Regions from separate parts of the Homo sapiens genome. Here all the other regions are linked to region 3. The links come from fine-mapping of genetic effects on gene expression. A gene starts in region 3. Each other region holds a variant in brackets. All regions are shown on one strand. Distances are from middle to middle.

What was found. PIP is the estimated chance that this variant, and not a neighbour inherited with it, causes the effect.
Region 1: its variant is the best candidate, but not a certain one, in a credible set for the expression of WARS1 in whole blood (TOPMed, PIP 0.66).
Region 2: its variant is the best candidate, but not a certain one, in a credible set for the expression of WARS1 in monocytes after Pam3CSK4 (Quach 2016, PIP 0.70).

Annotation. Positions count from the first base shown.
Region 1 is chr14:100,345,980-100,352,972 of GRCh38, reverse strand. WARS1 (tryptophanyl-tRNA synthetase 1) reads left to right here. Exons shown (of 11, transcript NM_004184.4): 7 at 6,127-6,227. Among named protein-coding and RNA genes, the nearest start is that of WARS1, 26 kb to the left of the region's middle. The variant T/C (reference allele first, on the strand shown) is at 2,537.
Region 2 is chr14:100,325,616-100,332,608 of GRCh38, reverse strand. SLC25A47 (solute carrier family 25 member 47) reads right to left here. Exons shown (of 6, transcript NM_207117.4): 2 at 6,778-6,821; 3 at 6,381-6,452; 4 at 5,239-5,421; 5 at 3,565-3,883; 6 at 2,188-3,244. The coding sequence ends at 2,964. Among named protein-coding and RNA genes, the nearest start is that of SLC25A47, 5.8 kb to the right of the region's middle. The variant C/G (reference allele first, on the strand shown) is at 3,608.
Region 3 is chr14:100,371,552-100,378,544 of GRCh38, reverse strand. It overlaps WARS1 (tryptophanyl-tRNA synthetase 1), which reads left to right and starts at 3,198. Exons shown (of 11, transcript NM_004184.4): 1 at 3,198-3,262. WDR25 (WD repeat domain 25) reads right to left here and starts at 2,060. Exons shown (of 7, transcript NM_001161476.3): 1 at 2,050-2,060. RefSeq lists silencers at 1,927-1,976, 2,167-2,226 and enhancers at 2,737-3,096, 3,107-3,246, 6,369-6,993.

The DNA of each region.
Region 1 (6,993 bases), 26 kb after region 3:
CACAGAGAAAAGACTCAGTGGTTACACAGTTTCCTCAGTCTAGTTCTTTTAATCAGCCATTTAATAAACCAAAATATTTCATTCTGAAAATCCTTCAAGTTTCATCCCAAATGATTACCAAGAAATGTGTTAGAAAAATAAGACTTTGGTCAACCATCACAAGAAGGATACTATCTAGCTCAACAAATATTTCTTGAGCACCTGAGTTGTGGTACTCCCCTAAGGTGAGATACTCTTCTAAGTCATAGTACTCCCCTAAGGCGTGGTCTCTCCTAAGGCATGGTACTCCCCTAAGGCATGTTACTCCACTCCCCAAAGACGTGTTACTCCTCCCCTAAAGTGATTCCCCAGGAGGAGTGGGTTCATTGCTATGCTCCTGCAGCCCAGGCTGGGCTCTGAGCAGGCCCTCCCATGTTAGCTCACCATCAGGGACCATGCCGAGGCAGGATAAGAGGGACACTAAAGGGGCAGGTGAGCAGTGAGCACAGGAGGACTTGCTTAGAGCCGCATCCCCAGAACGTTCCCTCTTATAAGACCTTAAAACTGAGTAGTGGCAGCCAGGCGCGGTGGCTCATGCCTGTAATCCCAGCACTTTGGGAGGCTGAGGTGGGTGGATCACAAGGTCAGGAGGTCAGGAGTTCGAGACCAGCCTGGCCAATATGGTGAAACCCCATCTCTACTAAAAACACAAAAATTAGCCGGGTGTGGTGGCGTGCTCCTGTAGTTGCAGCTACTTGGGAGGCTGAGGCAGAAGAATCGCTTGAACCTGGGAGGCGGAGGTTGCAGTGAGCCGAGATCATGCCACTGCATTCCAGCCTGGGCAACAGAGTGAGACTCTGTCTCAAAAAAAAAAAAAAAAAAAAAGAAAGAAACTGAGTAGTGGTTTTATATCCATTGAGAGCAATGTATACCCTGATAGGAAATCTCGCCCTTCTATCAGCCAGTAAAACTGTTAGCTTTTTCTTTTTCTTTTTTTTTTTGAGACGGAGTCTCGCTCTGTCACCCAGGCTGGAGTGCAGTGGCACAATCTCGGCTCACTGCAAGCTCCGCCTCTCAGGTTCACACCATTCTCTTGCCTCAGCCTCCCAAGTAGCTGGGACTACAGGTGCCCGCCACCATGTCCGGCTAATTTTTTGTATTTTTAGTAGAGACGGGGTTTCACTGTGTTAGCCAGGATGGTCTCGATCTTCTGACCTCATGATCTGCCTGCCTCGGCCTCCCAAAGCACTGGGATTACAGGCATGAGCCACCACGCCCAGCACCTATTAGATCTTTTAAAATTACTTCTCTTGGTTCAGCCATGTGAGCATGGAGGCCCTGTGGCATCCTTGAAGGAAGGAAAATAGACAGGGATCCAGATCCTGGCACCTGGGTTTAGTGGCTGTGTGTCATAGCAGCCGTGTCCATGAAATGGGATCAAACAAGAACATAGATGTCATCATTAGCATAATTTTCTTTTTTTTTTTTTTTTTTGAGACAGAGTCTCACTCATGGGTTTTGCCATGTTGGCCAGGCTGGTCTTGAACTCCTGACCTCAAGTGATCCTCCCCGCCTCAGCCTCCCAAAGTGCTGCGATTACAGGTGTGAGCCACCATGCCCAGCCGTGTTAGTATAATTTTCATGGCACTTTATTTCCTTATTCTCACCCCATTCCATACAATGATTCAACTGATTGAACCTCTGCAGAGACAACTGTGGGTTCTGCTTCTCCTTTTCCAGTCAGGCAGTGCTGCTGGCATTGCCCAGTAGCTGCTATCCTCTTCCCACACCACCACTGCCCCCACCAGCCAGTGATCTCCCTAAAACTCAGAGCTAATCTCATCTTCCACTTGCGGGTCTTTCCCAGCTCTCCTCCTTAGATGACATTGAGAATTCTCACCTTTCACTTGGCACACGAGCCCTTTCGTGATTGGCCCTGTGTTCCTCTCCAGCGTCACTGCTACCTCCAGCTCAGTGGAACAGCTTGCAGTTCCACATCCTTCTCCTTTGTACATGCTCTGTGCTGCCCAGAATTCCCACCCACTCTCCTGACCCTGCCACCCCCAGCTTAGCTAATTCCTACACTTTCTTCCAAAGGCATGATCAAGCATCACCTTTTCCTAGGAGCTTTCCCTCCCCACAGCCAAATTTAGATGCCCCTCTCTGGTCCTCCATCAGGCTGGGCCTTACCTCTGCCACATCTGGTACAGTGTGGCCCTCTCCCCACTAGCTGAGTAAGACACATAGTTCCTGAATTTGTGCTCTCTGTGGCCCATCCCCTCCTGGGCCCCACAGACACAGCAGAAGCAAAGCTGAGCCGCTTCGTTGATGGATATAAATGCTGGTGGTGAGACAAGAGCAAGTGCCTATAATAGTCCATGAAGCTGATTCAGCCAATAGATGCACGATGGGGTAGATGAACTTTTGAACAGTCCATGTGAAAAGACCACCACCTGAGCAACCCCACTTTCAGCGCTCTCTGAACGTGGAGTGAGGCCGCCATTCCTCGTGCTGTCTCTTTGGCAACTGCGGTTGCAGCTCCTGACCAGCCTCCACC[T/C]TCGCTAAATAAGAACTTCCTTTTTTTTTTTTTTTTTCTTTTTTTGAGATGGAGTCTTGCTCTGTCGCCCAAACTGGAGAGCAGTGGCATGATCTCGGCTTACTGCAATATCTGCCTCCTGGGTTCAAGCAATTCTCATGCCTCAGCCTCCTGAGTAGCTGGGATTACAGGCGCCCGCCACCACACCCAGCTAATTTTTGTATTTTTAGTAGAAACGGAGTTTCACCATGTTGGCCAGGCTGGTCTCGAACGACCTCAAGTGATCCACCCGCCTCGACCACCCAAAGTGCTGGGATGCGTGAGCCACTGCACCTGGTCGGGAACTTCCTTTTTTCTTACAAACATGGGGTAAAGATGAAACCCAGACAGTATGTCAACCAAAAGGGTCGATGATATCTTTTCTTGAAAGGCATTTTATATTGAACCTAAAGTGAGGAGAGACATTTTAAAGGGTAAATCCTCTATTCAAACATTTTACTTTAAGAGTTTCTTCTAAACATTTGAGCATTTTACTTTTCTTTCTTGAATTTAACTCAAAATCTATATCTTTGGCTTAATAAAGCTCCTTCCTGGTGTTTAGGAGCTGGAAATTCAACAAAGCCAGCCATCGCCCTCTTTGAGTGGGAGGGAGGTGGTGAGGCCTCCATGAGGGAGGAGGCCAGTGCAGTTCCCCCTGCACATTGCACATGGCCCCAGAACGGCCTTCCTGCCCAGGGCCCTGAGGGATGCAAAGGCACTGAGCTGGGAGTCTGAAAACTTGTGTTCCAGACCCAGCTCTGCCCCTGCCTGGTCTTGTTCCCTTGGGCAAGTCCTTAAATCTCTGAGCTTCCATGTTCCTGTGAGGAAGGGAGCTGGGTGCTAGTGGGGGGCAGCATAGCAGAGGTTGCAAGTGCTCTGCTTGACGGCCGTCCGCTGTGTGGCCTGGGCATGGGAGGAGCCTTCCACTGTGTGGCCCGGGCATGGGAGGAGCTCCTCTCTGCCTGCTTTCTTCACTCTGCTCCTTTGTTCTACAAATATTTATTGGACATCTGCTATATGCCAGACTCATGGTGGGGGTACAGCAGGGAGCAAAACCATTATCTCAGCAGCTGTGTAAAGCCTCTCTTCTAATGGGGAGAATCAGCTAACAGGTGATCAATCAGGTGATAATAAGTTCTATGGTGATAATAGGGACAAAGGGCAGGGGTAGAGAAGACTGTGGTCAGGAGATGATAGTGCCTGCACTGCATATAAAGTGCTTCAAGCCACGCCTGGCACCTGGGGAGTGCTCAGTAAATGTTGTAATCTAAAATCTCTTCCCACTTTAAACCCTGTCTGAGAGTGAAAAGCAGGTGCCCTCCCTGGGGTAACTGGTGGTTCAGCCACATGTGATATACAGTTAGGTGTGTTCACTGCAGCCAGTGAGAAGCCTCCATGTGCCGGCACTGGCATGGCTGCTTTGCGTGATGGGTCCGTCCCAGCTGTGCAGGGGGACAGCCGTCCCTTGAGGGGAGGATCACACGTGCTCACGGTGCAGCACCTGCATTCACCCTGCAGCCAGCACAGTGGCAGCAGCTTGCAGCAAGTAATGACCAGTCTTCTAAGAAAGGGCAGCGTGCTCTAACTCAGAAATACCAGTCAGACGCCGTGAAGCTACAGTCCTGCCACAGTTTGGGGGTACTGGAGACTTTCCCTCCTTGTAGGGGTTAGGGTGTCCCAGGTGCCTCAATCCCAAGGGCGCATGGAGTCTTTGCTGCAGCCCATCTCCCCAGGTGACAGACAGCTGCTGTCCTTACTGGCTGTGAGTCCTGCTGCGGTGCCCAGGAGGGACCCTCCCTGCCTGCGGTGTTCTTGGCTTGCTTGGCAGGAGGACAAAGGCCGCATCTTTCCAGGCAGTGCTGCTGTTGGCTGTGCTCTTGCTCTCTGTTGTTTCCATTGTGCTGAGTGGGTGACACAGATGCTGGGTTCTCCTGGCATGCCCCTTCACAGTACTGCGCCCGCCCTCTCCAGTGCCCCCCAGGGCCTGAAACTCAGCCGGCTGCTAGGCGAAAGACACAGTCCATCCCTCACGTGCTGCCTCTGCTCAACCTGGACAGGCCTTGGCACTGACCTTGACCGTTACAGGCCTCCCAGCATTGTGCTTCGCCCAGCACAAACGGCCAGTGTTCCTGCACTCCTGACACCCCACCCCACCTGCACAAAGACATTCAGTAGTTCTCCACCCTGCCCCAAAAGTCTAAACTCTTCTAAAGGATAAGATGTGGTGAGAAAAGCATAGGCTTTGGGGCCAGGTGAATCTGTGTTGGGATCCCAGCCCCTGTACTCACTGGGCCTGTGACTATGACCCTGAACTTCTTTGAGCCTAGTCTAACTGTAAGGTGGAGGCAATGCTACTACTTTGAAGGGGATTTTAGGAGTATTGACACATACGCAGCATCTAGCACAGCTCCTGCCACATGGTGCAAACACTTAAAAGACACCAGCCTTCCCCCTTTTCCCTCGTAGTGTCTAACACATGGTAGGGCCTAGAGAAAAAGCTACTGAATATAGTAATACAAAGATGCAATATAAGAAGCCACTTGGCTGGGCGCGGTGGCTCACACCTGTAATCCCAGCACTTTGGGAGGCCAAGGCAGGTGGATCACCTGAGGTCAGGAGTTTGAGACCAGCCTGGACAACATGGTGAAACCCCATCTCTACTAAAAATACAAAAATTAGCCAGGCATGGTGGCGAGCAGCTGTAATCCCAGCTACTCAGGAGGCTGAGGCAGGAGAATTGCTTGAACCCAAGAGATGGAGGTTGCAGTGAGCCAAGATCATGCCACTGCACTCCAGCCTGGGCTACAGAGTGAGACTCTGTCTCAAAACAAAAAAAAAGAAGCCACTCTGGGTTCTGCCAAACCCCTACACCCCACTGTGTTTGCTTCTTCTTCAGCCTAGTTCCTTCTGGTAGTGGAATGGATGCCACACATTCAGGCCTGGTACCCACACCCCTCACCATCCAGAAGAGAGAGTTGGGTTGCTTGAATCAGCCACTGTGGCCTAGCCCTGTTGCTGTGGATAGGGTTAGTTCTGCCCAAACAGCAGGGGGGAGCAGTGGCCAGAGACTAGGAGGACCAGCTGCACTGAAACAGGCCTTCCTCCTTCTCGGGCCGTGGGTTTCTATCCATACGCTCATCCGACAACAAGCAGATGGTCTCCCACAACACAGTATGTCTCAGCTAAGAAGCTCCTGGGGGCTCCCAGACTTGAGCTCCACAGCCCACTGAACTGCTGACCCTGGCAGAATTTAAATTTTTCATGCTAGCTGCAAGTCTCTGAATCTGCTTGTGTTCTTGCCTTGTTTGTATGTCTGCTTCACGTCGGTTTCACACTGGTTTCTGCCTTTCCCAGTCAACTCCACAGGTAAACGTGTGTCTGCTTTGCCTGATGCAGGTATCTTTGCCTACAGATGACTTCCTGGCACCTTCCCAGTGCTTACGTGTTGACCACAATGTGGCCCCGAGTCTGGCCCATGCCACTACTCATTGGCATCCAATTTTAATAACTGTGACTTTGCCTTCAGTGAAGGCCGCCCTCCGTTTGGGATTTCATTCTCGTTGTCTTTGCAGGATGAGCTCAGGTTTCTACAAAAATGTGGTGAAGATTCAAAAGCATGTTACCTTCAACCAAGTGAAAGGCATTTTCGGCTTCACTGACAGCGACTGCATTGGTAAGAGGCCCACTGCTGCTGTGGACCACTCCCTGCACCCTTCAAAAAGGAGCAGAGTTCTGGAGGAGACACATGCCTGGTTTAAATATCTCTGAGATGTTAGCGTTTGCAACTGTCTCTTTAAGTAGGATGCCCAGGCGTGGGTGGGTCATCGTTGTCCTGGAATCTGACTAGCTAGTGTAATGCATTGAGCAGCTTCTCTGGGTTGGGTGAAGCTGCACTTCAGGATGTGAGTCTGTCCCTCTCTTGTCACCCGTCTTAAGGTTTAGAAGAAAGAAAAATCTAAGGATGACTTTGGAGTTCCAACAGCTCTGGTGGGACCCCAGTCAGTGTAGGGTGGCCTTGGATGGAACCCAGGGGTGATGAAGAAGGACAGCTGGGTCTGCTGCCCATGAGAGGGCCTTTGAGTCTTTGTCTCCCTGGGCCTCAGTGTCCCCACATGTAAGATGAGGGGCTTGACACGAGGTCTTCTGGAGCCTTCCCACCCCTGCCCTGCTCTCCTTCCATGGCTCCACCCCAGCAGATGTGCAAATGGTTTGCCTCCCACGTGCATGCCTTCATGGCCCTCTCCATAAATTTCCATGTGTCTTTCAGATGCATTGGCTTCGTAGACTTTTAGACTTTTGGTCCTTGAGACTTGTGGCTGGGCCTTCTGATCCCCTCCTCTACTTGATGTTTGGTGCGTGGCTTCAGGCATAGCAGGCCCTTGAGGCCTTCAGTCAGCTGCCAGCCGAGCCAGCTCCCTGGGATGCGCTGCCGGGGCTCT
Region 2 (6,993 bases), 46 kb after region 3:
GTTCCCTGAAAGACATGGGCGTGTCTGGATTAGGATGGACAGGTTGCAGTGGCCCCATGAGTGTTTGGGGATGAGGCATGAGGCCGGGTGCCTGCACCACCGTGGTGCCAGAGGCTCTGCCGGAAGAGCACTCCTGCTCTGGCTGGTAATGTCCACTTGTCAGACAGATGTGGGGCCAACCCAGCTCAGTCTCTCTGTCCCGTGGCCCCCAGCCTGGAGGAGAGACCAGCTGAGCCTGCCTGAAAGGAGATGGTGCCTGAGAAGCACACAAAACAGCACTGGGTGGGGAAGCAGGGACAGGAAGGAGGGTGGCTGAGCACACGGGTGGCTGTGGAACAGCTCGTTGCTCCAGGACGGCACTTGGCAAGCAACAGGCCTGCCTCTGGCCCCCAGTGCCCGCCTGCAGCACCAGCAGATGTGCCCTCCCCAGGGTCACACTGGCTGGGCCTTGAGGCCCAGGACTCTCTGGTCATTACCATAGAGGTTGTAAAGACAGTGAGGACAGCCAGACGCGGTGGCTTACACCTGTAATCCCAGGCTGAGGCGGGCAGATCACGAGGTCAGGAGATCGAGACCATCCTGGCTAACACGGTAAAACCCCATCTCTACTAAAAATACAAAAAGAAATTAGCCAGGCGTGGTGGTGGGCACCCGTAGTCCCAGCTACTCGGGAGGCTGAGACAGGAGAATGGCGTGAACACAGGAGACAGAGCTTGCAGTGAGCCAAGCCGAGATCGCGCCACTGCACTCCAGCCTGGGCGACAGAGCGAGACTCCGTCTCAAAAAAAAAAAAAAAACAGTGAGGACAGAGGCCTTTCCTGCAAACCCCCTCCCCAGTGACACGCAGAGCCAGCTGCTCAGTGACACGGGCTCAGGGAGAGCCAAAGGCCCCCACCTCCCAGAGTGCAGCCACTGCCAGAGCCGGGCCAGGAGTGCTGCCAGGAACCCTCCTGCCAAGGCCGAACAGGTGGGGTCTTCTCGACAAAAACGGTCCCGGGGTCAGTGTTTGATGAGCCATGGAAACCTGTCAGCGCCTGCCCTTTCCCGGCATTCGGCCACAACATCTCAGCCTCTGCAACTCCTAAGCTGGACACACTTCCTGGAATCTACTGCAGGACTTATTCATTCATTCATTCATTCATTCACTCGCTCATTCATCCCACACCCCCTACTATGCAGCAGCCCTGGAGCTAGATGGAGTCCTTGCACAGCCCGCAGGCTCTTGTGGCCGGGGAGAGGCAGATGAGTGACCACACACCCAACCAGGTCCCCAAGGGAGCAGAGCAAGAGATGCTTGGGAGCAGCCCAGTGGTCAGGCAAGGAGAGCTTCCTGGAGGAGGTGGCGCCTGGGGTGTGGAGCCAGCCAGGCAGAGCAGTAGGAGGGTATTCCTGGCAGAGGGCACAGGGCATAAGGTCAGGTGCCCACAGCACCACACATATGGGGACTGGCGTAACAAGAGGGGTTCCACCCCTTACTCTGGGAGCAGAAGAATTTTGTTCGGCAGAACACAGGACAGCGTTCAGTCCACAGACACAGTCAAGGTCAGTGTCCATGAGTGAATATAGTCAATGCAGGTGGCCTCTGGCCCTGCCAGAGGGCTGCTGTGGTGGAGACCCGGTGGCTTCACGCTGGACCTGCCAGCCCTAGCCCCTGATAGCCCCCATCATTGGAAGCCACATGATGCCAGGAGGGGGGGTGCTGGAGCCTCAGAAGCACTGGCTGCAGTCCACCCACCCCTCCCTGATGCGTGACGGCAGGCAAGGCCCCCTCCCTCTTGGAGCTGTCAGGTGGCTGTGGTGAGCTGTGCAAGGCACCTGGCGCCCTCCCACGGGCAGCCCCCTCTGGAAGGGGAGCTCACATTCAGGGCAGGTGGGAGGGCCTGGCTGGAACCAGCTTTCGCTCAGAAAGCGGGTGGGTTTGGGATAGGGTGGTGAGGACAGTAAGTACCCTGCTAAACAGCCCCCTGCGGCAGGACTCAGCACCATAGGCTAGGCCCCACAGCCCAGAAGGCCGAGAGAGTGGAGCCCGCCAGAGTGCCAGGCGGGGTTTCAGTGTGGCCATCTGCACAGTGGGAGCACCAGCAGCTCAGGTTTCGAGGGCTCATCCAGCAGGAAGGGAGCAGGACAGGGCCACAGCCCCACACCTCCCAGGACGGGTGGGCAGGCCTCACAGGGTGCAAAGCTGCTGGGGGCAGGGAACAGTCAGCCCACGGCCATGGAGCCACAGCCCTGAACATCCTCAGAAACATTTTATTGACAACAGTTCCCAACAGAGTCTTTGGGGTCTTTAAGTGGCAGGTGCAGCGTCCACAGGCAGAGTGAGGGCTCCTGAGGAACCTCACCCCAAATTCCCTAACCGGCCGAGGACGGCCACCCCAGGCCCCTCTCAGGTGGGCATGGCAGTCCCGGCAGCACCCCCTCTGAGCAGCCTGCTGTGGGGAAGAAGCCGAGCCGGGAGCCCTCAGTCGTGGTGCCAGCCCAGCTCATGCTCCCCGCCCCGAGGCCCCCAGCCTGTGGGAAGCCCCTGCCTGTAAGGGACAGCTCGTGAAGACACAGGAACAGTGGTGGGGGTGAGGGTCTAGGAATGGGGCAGAGGGTGGCTGAGCACACACCTGACTCCCTGGAGGGGTGCTTCAAAGACATGGGAGGCGAGGGCCATGGGGAGGCTGGGATGAACAACCGACTCCATGCAACTCAACGCTCTCATCAAAGAGGCCCACTCCTCCCTGGCTCCTGCCACCCTAGGCCAACCCTGGCTGATGGCTGGCGGGCCCCTCGACCTGAGGTCAGTAGCTGGGCAGGGCGAGCTCAGGCCTCGGCCGACAACACTGCAGGGAGGCTCCTCATTCTCCTGGGCAATGGCCCTGTGGGGTCCCGAACCCAGCCACACTACCCCTTGCCTCCTCCAGCCACTACGACCTCCAGCAGCTGCTGGTGGGTGGGCCGCTGGGCGTGGGGACCGGCTATGTGAGCAGACCCCGGGCGAGCCTCAGCACTGCCTCATAGGCGACGAAGACCACCATGTTGACAGGGAAGGCGCGGCAGCAATTGAGTACCAGCCCCTTGAAAAGGACCCGGGGTCCCTCCTCTCGAACGCTGGTCACCATACAGTGCAGGAGACCCCGGTAGCGCCTCTGGCCCTGCCCGTCTGCCTGCAGTCTCGACTTGATCACGTCCATGGGGGTGGCCACAGCCCAGGCCAGGACTCCTGCACAGCCCCCGGCCACCAGCACGCCCGGGACATCTGCAGAGAGACCACAGTGCCTTGACTGGGAGCCTGATCGGGGCGCCCAGGGCAGCGCACCCTGGACTCACGCTTCCGGCCCGTCCTCATTTGCAACAGGCTTGGGAGAGGGGAATGGGACTTGTCCACAACCACACACTGACTCTGTGACACAGCAAGTCTGTCCTGACTCTTGGTGTTGGGAGAACTGAGGAGCCCACTCTGGGAGGCAGGAGGCCAAGTTCAAGCCCCCACTCGGGTACTGGCGGGCAGCACGACCTCACCTTGACCTCCTCATCCTTCTGGGCTCCCCGCCCTGCCAGGTTCCAGCCCCTGCTCACCTGGCCGGCTGTGGCCAGCGGGGCTGAGCCACTCGCAGAGGAC[C/G]GCGTAGGAAAGGAAGTAGGTGGCAAAGGAGTGGCCGTCCCGTAAGACCAGGGCCGAGCTGCCCTTGTAGAGGCCGCACAGCCCCTCCTCACGGGCTACCGTGGCCAGGCAGTGCAGTGGCCCGCGGTACTTGGGCTCTGGGCAGGCTGGGGGCACAGGACACATGGGGGGCACAGCCAACGGCCCCGAGGCCGAAAGCCGCCGCTGCTGCTTCTGCGCCTGTGTCTGCGTCTGCAAGCGGACTTTGGCCACCTCAGTGGGCGACGTCAGGAACACCTGGAGCAGAGAAGGAAGCAGGGGTCAGCCACCTGTGGCTCTGCCCACAGCCTGGACCTGGCCTCCCACCAGCCTCATGTTGCTCACGGTGACCTCAGGAGGTTGGGCCCCGAGACCCTGCAGGCTGGCCCAGGGCTGGGGGGCCACGGGGCCCAAAGCCAGCTCCGCCCACCCAATGCCAAAGCCCATGCTTCCTCGGCAGCCACATCTCTCCCAGGCCAGCCTGCCAGGCTTCTCCTGGGACGTGTAAGATAATTTCCATGACCCAGGTTCAAGAACGTATTTAGTAACATATCAGCAATAAAATAATACCATGGCCAGGCGCAGCGGCTCACGCCTGTAATCCCAGCACTTTGGGAGGTCAAGGCAGGCGGATCACGAGATCAGGAGTTTGAGACCAGCCTGGCCAATATGGGTGAAACCCCATCTCTACTAAAAATACAAAAATTAGCCGGGCTTGGTGGCGCGTGCCTGTAGTCCCAGCTACTCAGGAGGCTGAGGCAGGAGAATTGCTTGAACCTGGGACGTAGAGGTTGTAGTGAGCGGAGATGGTGCCACTAAACACTGGCCTGGGTAACCGAGCAAGACTCTGTCTCAAAAAAAAAAAAAAAAATCACTAGACATACTGGCTGCCACTTTGTGGGTACTCATTCATGTCGGACTCCACATATGTGTGCTGGGGGCTTTACCCTCATGATTTCACTAAATTCTCATCATGCCTCTTACAGATGGAGAGACAGAAGCTCCAAGAGTCTCCCTTGCTTGCCCAAGGTTGCTCAGCTCATGAGGGTCAGAGCTGAGAGCTGGGCCTGGTGGTCTGGACCCCTGGGCCAGGCCTTCAGCTGCTGGGCTGCTCCAGCTGGCTCCGTGCTGTCACCAAGTGCGAAAGTCTGTCTCCCCTGCGGGAGCAAGGGCTCCCTGAGGGCAGGCGGGCACCGCAGGTGCTCCATGCACAGTTGAGGATGGAGAAATGCCCACATCCAGCAATGGCCGACTGTGTTCAGGCATCTCCGTGCCTGGAGCCATGAGTGCCCGGGGCCTGCCTATTCAGCTCCCCATGGTGGCTTCTAGGTGACCTTCTGACCGTGACAGGGAGAGTCCCTTTGGTCACAGCCCCCTTCCTGAGGGGGCCGTGCTGGGCAGGACAGCAGCGACCCCCTCATCTGTGTGCTGCTGAGGGGTTCCAGGCCCAGCCTAGGCGGGATGCGAGTTCTTCTCCCACAGCCCCTGACTCCATGCATGGCCTCCAGTGTCTGCCCTCATCAAGCCTCAGTTTCCCCACCTGCCAGGATGGATAACCTCTCAGACCCCGCAGTCTCTCTTGGGCCTTCCCCACCCTGGCTGCCCCTACTCACGCGGACGAGGCCGGAGGCGCATCCCGAGAGCGTGATGTCGGCCTTGGTGGGCTTGGCGTCAGGGTTGCCGTACCGGAGCCGGCAGATGTGCGCCAGGCAGTGGCGGTAGGTGCCAAAAGACACGGAAGATACCAGGGACACCGTGCACACGGGCAGCGAGAGGCCCCGGTAGAAGCCCCACACCTAGCAGACAGGATCCAGGTCAGGCTAGGGCCCCGCCAGGAGGAGGAGCCACCCGAGGGAGCCCACACTCAGCCCTGCTCCGCACTCCGCTGTCGGACCTCGGGAAGGTCATTCACGGCCTCAGGGCCTCAGTTTCCTCTGCTGTAAGATGGAGGTCACAAGGGGGGACCTGAAGAGCCAGAGGACCAGGCCCAACCCAGCCCAGCTGCTTGATGACGATGAACTTTTTTTTTTTGCCCAGGCTGGAGTGCAGTGGCACGATCTTAACTCACTGCAACCTCCGCATCCCAGGTTCAAGCGATTCTCCTGCCTCAGCCTCCTGAGCCACTGCGATTACAGGTGCCTGCCACCACCTCCAGCTAATTTTTGTATTTTTAGTAGAGACGGGGTTTCACCATGTTGGCAAGGCTTGTCTTGAACTCCTGACCACAGGTGATCTGCCTGCTTCGGCCTCCCAAAGTGCTGGGATTACAGGCGTAAGCCACCGCTCCTGGCCTGACAATGAACTAGTAACAGCATGTTCTGCCACTGCTGCTTTCACAAACTAGCCCCTGGCCTGCACCAAGCCCCAAGTCCACGTAGGAGAATGTCGCCAAGTACTGCTCCGGACAGGTCTCTGAGCTAGACCCTAAAGACTCCACCCAACACTGCCTTCAAGGGGTGCCTGGCCTGGAGGAGACAGAAATGCAGTGCATGGGTCCCTCCTCCGACTTTCAAAGACCTGAACGCTACCTCTAGACCCTCTGCTGGAGGTGGGAACCTCCTTCTGAGGCCCCTCTAGCTGCCAGATGTCCTGGCTCCAGACCTCAGAGGAACCCATGAGATTGGCAGAACTATTCCCATGTGGAAGGTGAGAGAGCTGAGACCCAGCGGGGAGCCTGGCATCACCTGCTGGGCAGCGGAGGCAGGCCCAGCATCCCCTCCCTGTCTCCCTACCCAGCCCCTGGCCCCAGACCTACGCGCTCTCGGTGATACGTATCCCGGACGCAGTGCCAGATGCCTGTGTACTTTGGCTCCGTCTGGATCCTGACCTGCAGGAGAAGTGGGCTTCAGGCACGAGCGGCTCCAGGCCTAGGGCAAGGCCAGCAGGCCCTGGGGAAGGGGCAGAGTCACACTCTTGATTGTCCCAGCCATGCTGGACGGTGGCACAGCAGGGACAGGGAGCCTTGTGTTAGACGAGAAACCTGGGGCACAGGGGTGAGAAAGTGGGACTGACATAGTCCCAGGGGCTATGGGGAGCCATTGAAGGCATTTGGGTAGGAAAGGGGTGGGTCTGTTTAGCATTCTAGAAAAGTCTCCTGGCCGTGGACAGGTGCAGGGGCCTTAGGATGGTTGGGGGGCTGGCTATTGCCGCACCTTCACCGTGTCCAGGGGGTAGCCCACAGCAACACCGCAGACGCCTGCAAGGAAAGAAGAGGCCCACGGTGAGGAGAGTGGGGCCGGCGAGCAGTTCAACCCCATTGCAGGGAAGCAGAAGCAGAGCGCACGCTGACTGGGCTCCCCCAAGGGCAGACCCACATTTGGCCCTTCTGGTCTGCACCAGGTCTCATCAATCCTGAGGGCACCCCCGTT
Region 3 (6,993 bases):
TCCAAATCCACCCATTTCACTCCCAACACACAGATTCACACTGCAATGAATTTCTACTTGTTAAAAAAAATCTTTCTGGGCAGGGCATAGTGGCTCATGCCTGTAATCCCAGCACTTTGGGAGGCCGAGGTGGGCGGATCACCTGAGGTCGAGTTCGAGACCAGCCTGGCCAACATGGTGAAACCCTGTCTCTACTAAAATACAAAAATTAGCCGGGCGTGGTGGCACACGCCTGTAATCCCAGCTACTCGGGAGGCTGAGGCAGGAGAATCATTTAAACCCAGGAGGCAGAGGTTGCAGTGAGCCAAGATCGCGCCATTGCACCCCAGCCTGGGCGACAAGAGTGAAACTTCGTCTCAAAAAAAAAAAAAATCTTTCTGAAATTCTGAACCATCATACACAATACATGGTTATCAATTAGTTCCCAGAAAGAAGTGCTTTGGTAATTTTTTACTTCTGTGCTGTTAGCACCAAGCACAATCCAGAGAAAAAGAAGGGTGCTAGGCACTCCTAGGACAGCAGAGGGCGCGGTGGAACAGCACAGAACGCTCAGGCAATAGACCGACTTCCAAGAAAACCCAGTGCACCCAACCTTAATCAAACACGCCAAGCTCCGCCTCCATCCCCCAACAGGTGGAGTCAGGTCAGCATCAACAGATTCCCTCCAAGTCCTTTTCTAAGTCATTCCAGACAGCCTATTACCCATCTCTTCTTCTAGACAATGGGTTTCTATGTCCCCTGGAATCAACCACCCAACCTCTTCCACACCTTTCCCCCAAGTGGCATCATTCGCCTGAGGGTTCCACTGGTCTACAAGTCAGGTCATCATTCCATAAATGTCTGTAGTCAGCCTCCTCTAGTAATGCCGCCCCCGTTCGCAGCCCATTCCAGGCAGGTAACAACTTCCACACGCAAAGCCAGAGTTTAAATAAAACGACCGGGCGCGGTGGCTCACGCCTGTAATCCTAGCACTGTAGGAGGCCGAGAAGGGCGGATTACCTGAGGTCGGGGGTTCAAGACCAGCCTGGCCAACATGGTGAAACCCCGTCTCTACTAAAAATACAAAAAAAAAAAAAATTTAGCCGTGTGCAGTGGTGCGCGCCTGTAATCCCAGCTACTCTGGAGGCTGAGGCCGCAGAATTGCTTGAACCCGGGAGGCGGAGGTTGCGGTGAGTGGAGATCACGCCACTGCACTCCAGCCTGGGCTACAGAGCGAGACTTGGTCTCAAAAAACAACAACAACAACAACAACTTCTAAAGCCAGCCAGCCAGCTCATCTCCAATGGAACTAATATAATATGAAAGACTAATTATAAACTAATGGAACCGTGCACTGCAAATAATTTGGCATTTCTGTTCTCTAAATGCTAAGCCTGGTCCCGAGGCCACTCTCAACTCCTCTGCCCAGGCACCACCCACCATGCACCCAGATTCCCACCACCAGGGTGCCCGTGCTCCCTCTGGAAGGAGATGAGGGATTAAACGAAGAGGAACAGACAGTAAGATGGAAGGGAAGGCAGGGACACTGGAGAAGAGTCTAAGGAAGGAGCGAGTGACTCTGACAGTCACTATCAGCAAGTCAGCCCCATGAGGACAGGACTTTCTGTGTTTTGTTCACTATTCAATGCCCAGCGTCTAAAAATATTTCTGGAATGCAAACGGGTGGGAGGGGGAGATGCTAGGAAGTAAAAGAAATAGGATATTCCCATTCAACAAACATTTCCTGATTACGTACTCTTTGTCAAGCCCTATGCTGGGTCTGGTGTGGGTGGAAATCAAACACAAAACACAGATCCCCCCGGAGGCCCCAGAGCGATGAAAGCAACAAACAAGATACGACCAGAGATGGGTTTTGAAGGATGAATAGGAGTTAGCTGAGCTGTCAATAGTAAGAAGTAAGGTTGGTCCAAGGCACAGCGCTTTCTGAAGGAACAGGAAGTGAAAGGAAGGCGAGCGGCTATGAGAGACCGCGTTAAGCGGCACGGGGCGCTTTAGGCGCTGCCCAGTCCCGGCCCCTCCAGCCCGGGGCCCGCCGCTCACCACACGCACCGGAAGCGCTCGGTTCTCCCGGAGGCAGACCGGCCAGCACACTACCATCCAGTCACGTTCCGACGCGACGCCGCGGCCGCCAGCCAATCAGTGGCGGCCTCTGCCCCGCCCCCGCGCGAACAGCCAATGACGGCGCCGTCGGGCCGGAAGTTGTTCCGTCCGGACGGCGTTTCCACGGACGCCCAGGAGACAGCCGGTTGCTGAGCCGGGAGCGCTGACTGGCCCGGCTGGGCAGGGTAAGCGAGGGGAGTAAGGCCGGGGCGGAGTGAGGAAACAAGGGAGGGAGTGATGGAGGGACGCTGGCGCGGCGCCCAGTGGCCTGGCCCTCCCGGGAGTATCCTTAGAGCCCGGCTTGCTGCCCGCCGCGTTCTGGCACTGTGAGGCGCGGAGCCTGCCACCGACCCCTCGCCCCTTTCCTCTGAGCGCCGCCGACCCACCCCGTCTCCCTTTCCCACTGGCACCCTTCATCGTCTCCGCCTGTTCGCTTTTCCCGAGGAGAGAGGCCCCCATTTTTATTTAGCGCCTGCCATGTGCCAGAGGCTTTGCGTAGTGTTGCACTTAGTCCCCTCAACGGTAATGTTAGCAGGCTTCTCCATGCCCATTCCACAGATGAGGAAACCGAAGGGGAAGCAGAAAAGTAATGCGACCCTTGCCCAAGGTTTCGAATAAGTCCAAGCTGGGATTGAAACCCAGGCGTCTGTGACCCCAGAACTCCTGATCTTTCCACTGCACTGTGCCGCCTCGGTGAACAGATGCGGGGAATTTACAGTTTCTCTTTCCACCGCCCACGACTACACAAAATCAGTCACACTGACGCTGAGGGTGGGGAACGGGAAGAGGGTGGGGAGGTTATTTGGAGGCCAGCGGGGGGTGAGGGGTGGCTGATGCAATGACCAGCTAATGGCTCGATTCTCAAGAGGGTTTCATTGGTCTCAACCTGGCCCCCCAGGCAACCCACCCCTGATTGGACAGTCTCATCAAGAAGGTTGGTCAAGAGCTCAAGTGTTTCTGAGAATCTGGGTGATTTATAAGAAACCCTTAGCTGAATGCAGGGTGGGGAGAACGAAAGACAAAAGCATCTTTTTTCAGAAGGGAAACTGAAAGAAAGAGGGGAAGAGTATTAAAGACCATTTCTGGCTGGGCAGGGCACTCTCAGCAGCTCAACTGCCCAGCGTGACCAGTGGCCACCTCTGCAGTGTCTTCCACAACCTGGGTATGTATTGCCATCTTTGCCAGGCTTAGAGCTTGTTCGTGTTTTTAGCAAAGTGCTGAAAACCTTGGTTTAGGGGGTCAGGACTTGTGTCTTAGGATTAGGGTGTTATGCATTTTACTTCTTCCATTGACCCAAAGTTCAGGTGATTCACTGCTCCCATAGGGAACAGAGATCCTGGCTGAGCAGTCGCGGGCTTGGATCCGTAGCTTGCCTCTCAGCACCGTCATGCTGTCTGTCATAATTTTCACTGATGCACCCTCCTTCTGTGCTCAACATCAGAACGTATTGTCATTCTTATTGTGACACCCAAAAGTGTCTCGTGCCTGGCTTCATAGAAATTAATGTCTTTGCCTTTTAAGATAATGTTCATGCTGTTATTTGGCGGGGAAAGCAATCTTTCTTTTAGTGTTTAAAAAAAATGGAACATGATGGGTCCCAAAAGGTGTCAAGAAATCCTTGCTCTAAAGAAGTCATTTTCTTGTCCTCTGGGAACTTGCCAGTCCAAAGGTATTGTCACCTACACTCTGGGGCCAAGATAGAAAGGATGGTATTCTACCTCCTGGTGGTATTCCAGGGATCCAGAAACACTCCTGGGCCACATTCTCTTCTCACCTGCTCCAGAATTGGCTGTCTTGATGCCACCCTTCCCCAGATTGCAGAATCAGCGTGCCCTGATCTCTGTGAGATGATTTTGATGCAACCCAAGTCTTTATCATGTTGTTCTGTTAAACAATTCTATAGTCCTTTCCACTCCTCATCCCAATACAATACCCAGTTTCTTTAAGTGCCTATTATGCTCCTCCACCACAGTGGAAACTTTCAGAATGAGCACAAGATTCAAGTTCTTGAAAAGGGGGAACTGGGGGTTAATTTTCAAGAGGCTTTTTAGCTTTCTCCTTGAAGGTCTGCTGTGATCTGCTGTGGAGTAGGCAGTTTTGCTCTTTACACGCCCAGTACTTTTGTTTAGGGAAGATAATAGAGTACTTCACTGGTTATAACTGCATTTCTTTGTTTCAGAGTGTACTATTTGTTAAACAGGTGAATCTACTTCTCTTAACAAAGTCTCAATGTCCTATTTGCAATTTATGTGGTAAACACTGAAGACAATGGTCCTTAACCTTTTGGCATCTCAGCCTCCTTTCGAAAGGTAAGAAAGCCAGGAGACTGCTCAAAACCATGTACATACCAATGTACTTGCAAGCATTAATGTAATTTCAGATGTTCCTGAACTCCAAGTTGAAAAACCTCTGAAGTTCAACTCAATTCTGAAAGTCAACAAAGAAATAAAGGAGGATGTCAATAGGTAGGGGGAAGAAGAACATTTACACAGGAAATGGGGTAAACTCATAAATGCGTGAAATGAGGAAGATGGTAGTTCCATTCTCCTTGTCTCTGACCACACAGAAAGTTGCATCATACACACACACACACACACACACACACACACACACACACACAAGATTTCAATAGTGTGGATGATTCCCACGCAAAGTATATGCCTTGTGATCATGATCATCTGCTATTTCCTCAGTCTAATTTCATTCCCATGTGCTTCTTAAATGGAGTTCTGATATTTATAGACACATGTTTTTCCCTGCAACATGGACCCTAAATGCAAGTCCTGTTTATCTAGCTGATCCTCTAGCAAAGAAACAGTTATCTATTCTATTGCAGTGGGAGATTGGCTGTCCTGGGATCACTCAGGCATTCTACCTGGCACTTTCCCCTGGAATTTTTAAGGATAATTTTTATACTTGATTGACTTCAAAACCTTACTGCTGCTGCCTTGTTGCCTTCACGCGGGGCACCACATTTTTTGGAAGGACAGGGTAAACCAAAAGGAATTCCAAAAATAGTGACCAGGATGGTGGGCAGATGTTAGCAGAGGGTGAAGAAAACAGACTAAGGTTGGGAGACCTGGAGGAGACCCCAAGAGACCAGCCTGGCTCTCCTTAGATGTGGGAAAGCTCAACTCAGTACCAGGACGTTAAACAAGAGGCCATCTAAAGTCCAGCTGGGGGAATCAGTCTTCAACTGGAACAAGTAAAGACATTCTAAGGATAAACCTTAGAGGAAAAAGTTGAACTAGATGACTAAGGAGATTCATTCATTAGGTAAATATTTTTTGATAAGCTGTGTGCCAGGTACTAGAGGTACATGGAAGAATAAACCCAGGGCTTACCTTTGCTGTCTGCTGGGGAAGACATGAATAACTAAACTGCAGTGTGAGTGCTTTCATAAAGTTACTAAAGGAGTGTTTGGGGATCACAAAGGATGGAGCAACCAACTTGTTCCCAGAAGCATAGGTGTCAGGAGAGGCTGTGAAGAGCTGAGGTTCAAATTGGAAAGATAATCAATCAGCAGAGTTCAGGCAGAGAAGGGTGTGAGACATTTCAGGCAGGCAGGCAGGCAGGCAGCAGGGAGCAGCAGGGATTCTGAGAGAGCACATGAGCAAGGGGGCTTGGGAATCAGATTCTGGCTTAGCTACTCCCTGGTAATGGAGCCATCAGCCTCTTGTCTGCTATTGCAGGGCACATAGAGTAACACCCAGCTTTGAGAGTTGGGAGAATTCAGGATAGGTTTCTGGACATGATGATTGATGATTTGTGGCTAGAAGTAATTTTCATGAGTTTGATCGTTATTTGATATGGACAGAGACCTTAGAGAGAAATGGATTTCGACTGATTTGCTCAGCTTGTTGCTGGGGAGGGAATGGGAGAGCCTGAGAGTTCTCTCTAGCCCTAGGCAGAGGGTACTCCGGCATTCCTCCCTAAACTGGATGCTTTCTTATCTGAGTCAGTTATCTCACCAAACCTCCCTTTCTGGGAACTGAGGTGGTTCTCATCAAGGAGGAGAAAGAAACTGGCTGCTGTCCTGTCCCGGTTTTCAGTATTATAGTTTCATTGAATTAAATAAGTTTTGATTTACATACTTTTTTTTCAATTTTTGTTTTTTTATTTTATAAAAATTTTTTGGAGAGACAGGGTCTCACTATCCATGTTACCTTTCACTCGTGTCACTCGTGTCCGTGTGAAGAGACCACCAAACAGGGTTTGTGTGAGCAACAAGGTTGTTTATTTCACCTGGCTGCAGGCGGGCTGAGTCCAAAAAGAGAGTCATGGAAGGGAGATAGGAGTGGGGCCGTTTTATAGGATTTGGGTAGGTAAAGGAAAGTTATAGTCAAAGGGGATTGTTCTCTGGCGGGCAGGTGGCAGGGGTCACAAGGTGATCAGCAGGGGAGCTTTTGAGCCAGGATGAGCAAGGAGAAGGAATTTCACAAGGGAATGTCATCAGTTAAGGCAGGAACAGGCCATTTTCACTTCTTTTGTGAAGGAATGTCATCAGTTAAGGCCATCTGGATGTGTACGTGCCGGTCACAGGGGATATGGTGGCTTAGCTTGGGCTCAGAGACCTGACATTACCCAAGCTGCTCTTGAACTCCTGAGCTCAAGCAATCGCCTCTGCTTCCCAAAGCACTTGGACTGCAGTTGTGAGCCACCGCTCACAGCACCCGTGATTTACATACTTTTTGGAATTTTTTTTGTTTTGAGACAGAGTCTCTCTCTGTTGCCCAGGTTGGAGTGCAGTGGCATGGTCTCAGCTCACTGCAACCTCTGCCTCCCAGGTTCAAGTGATTCTCATGCCTCAGCCTCCCAAGTAGCTGGGACTACAGGTACATGCCACCATGCCTGGCTAATTTTTGTATTTTTAGTGAAGATGGGGTTTCACCA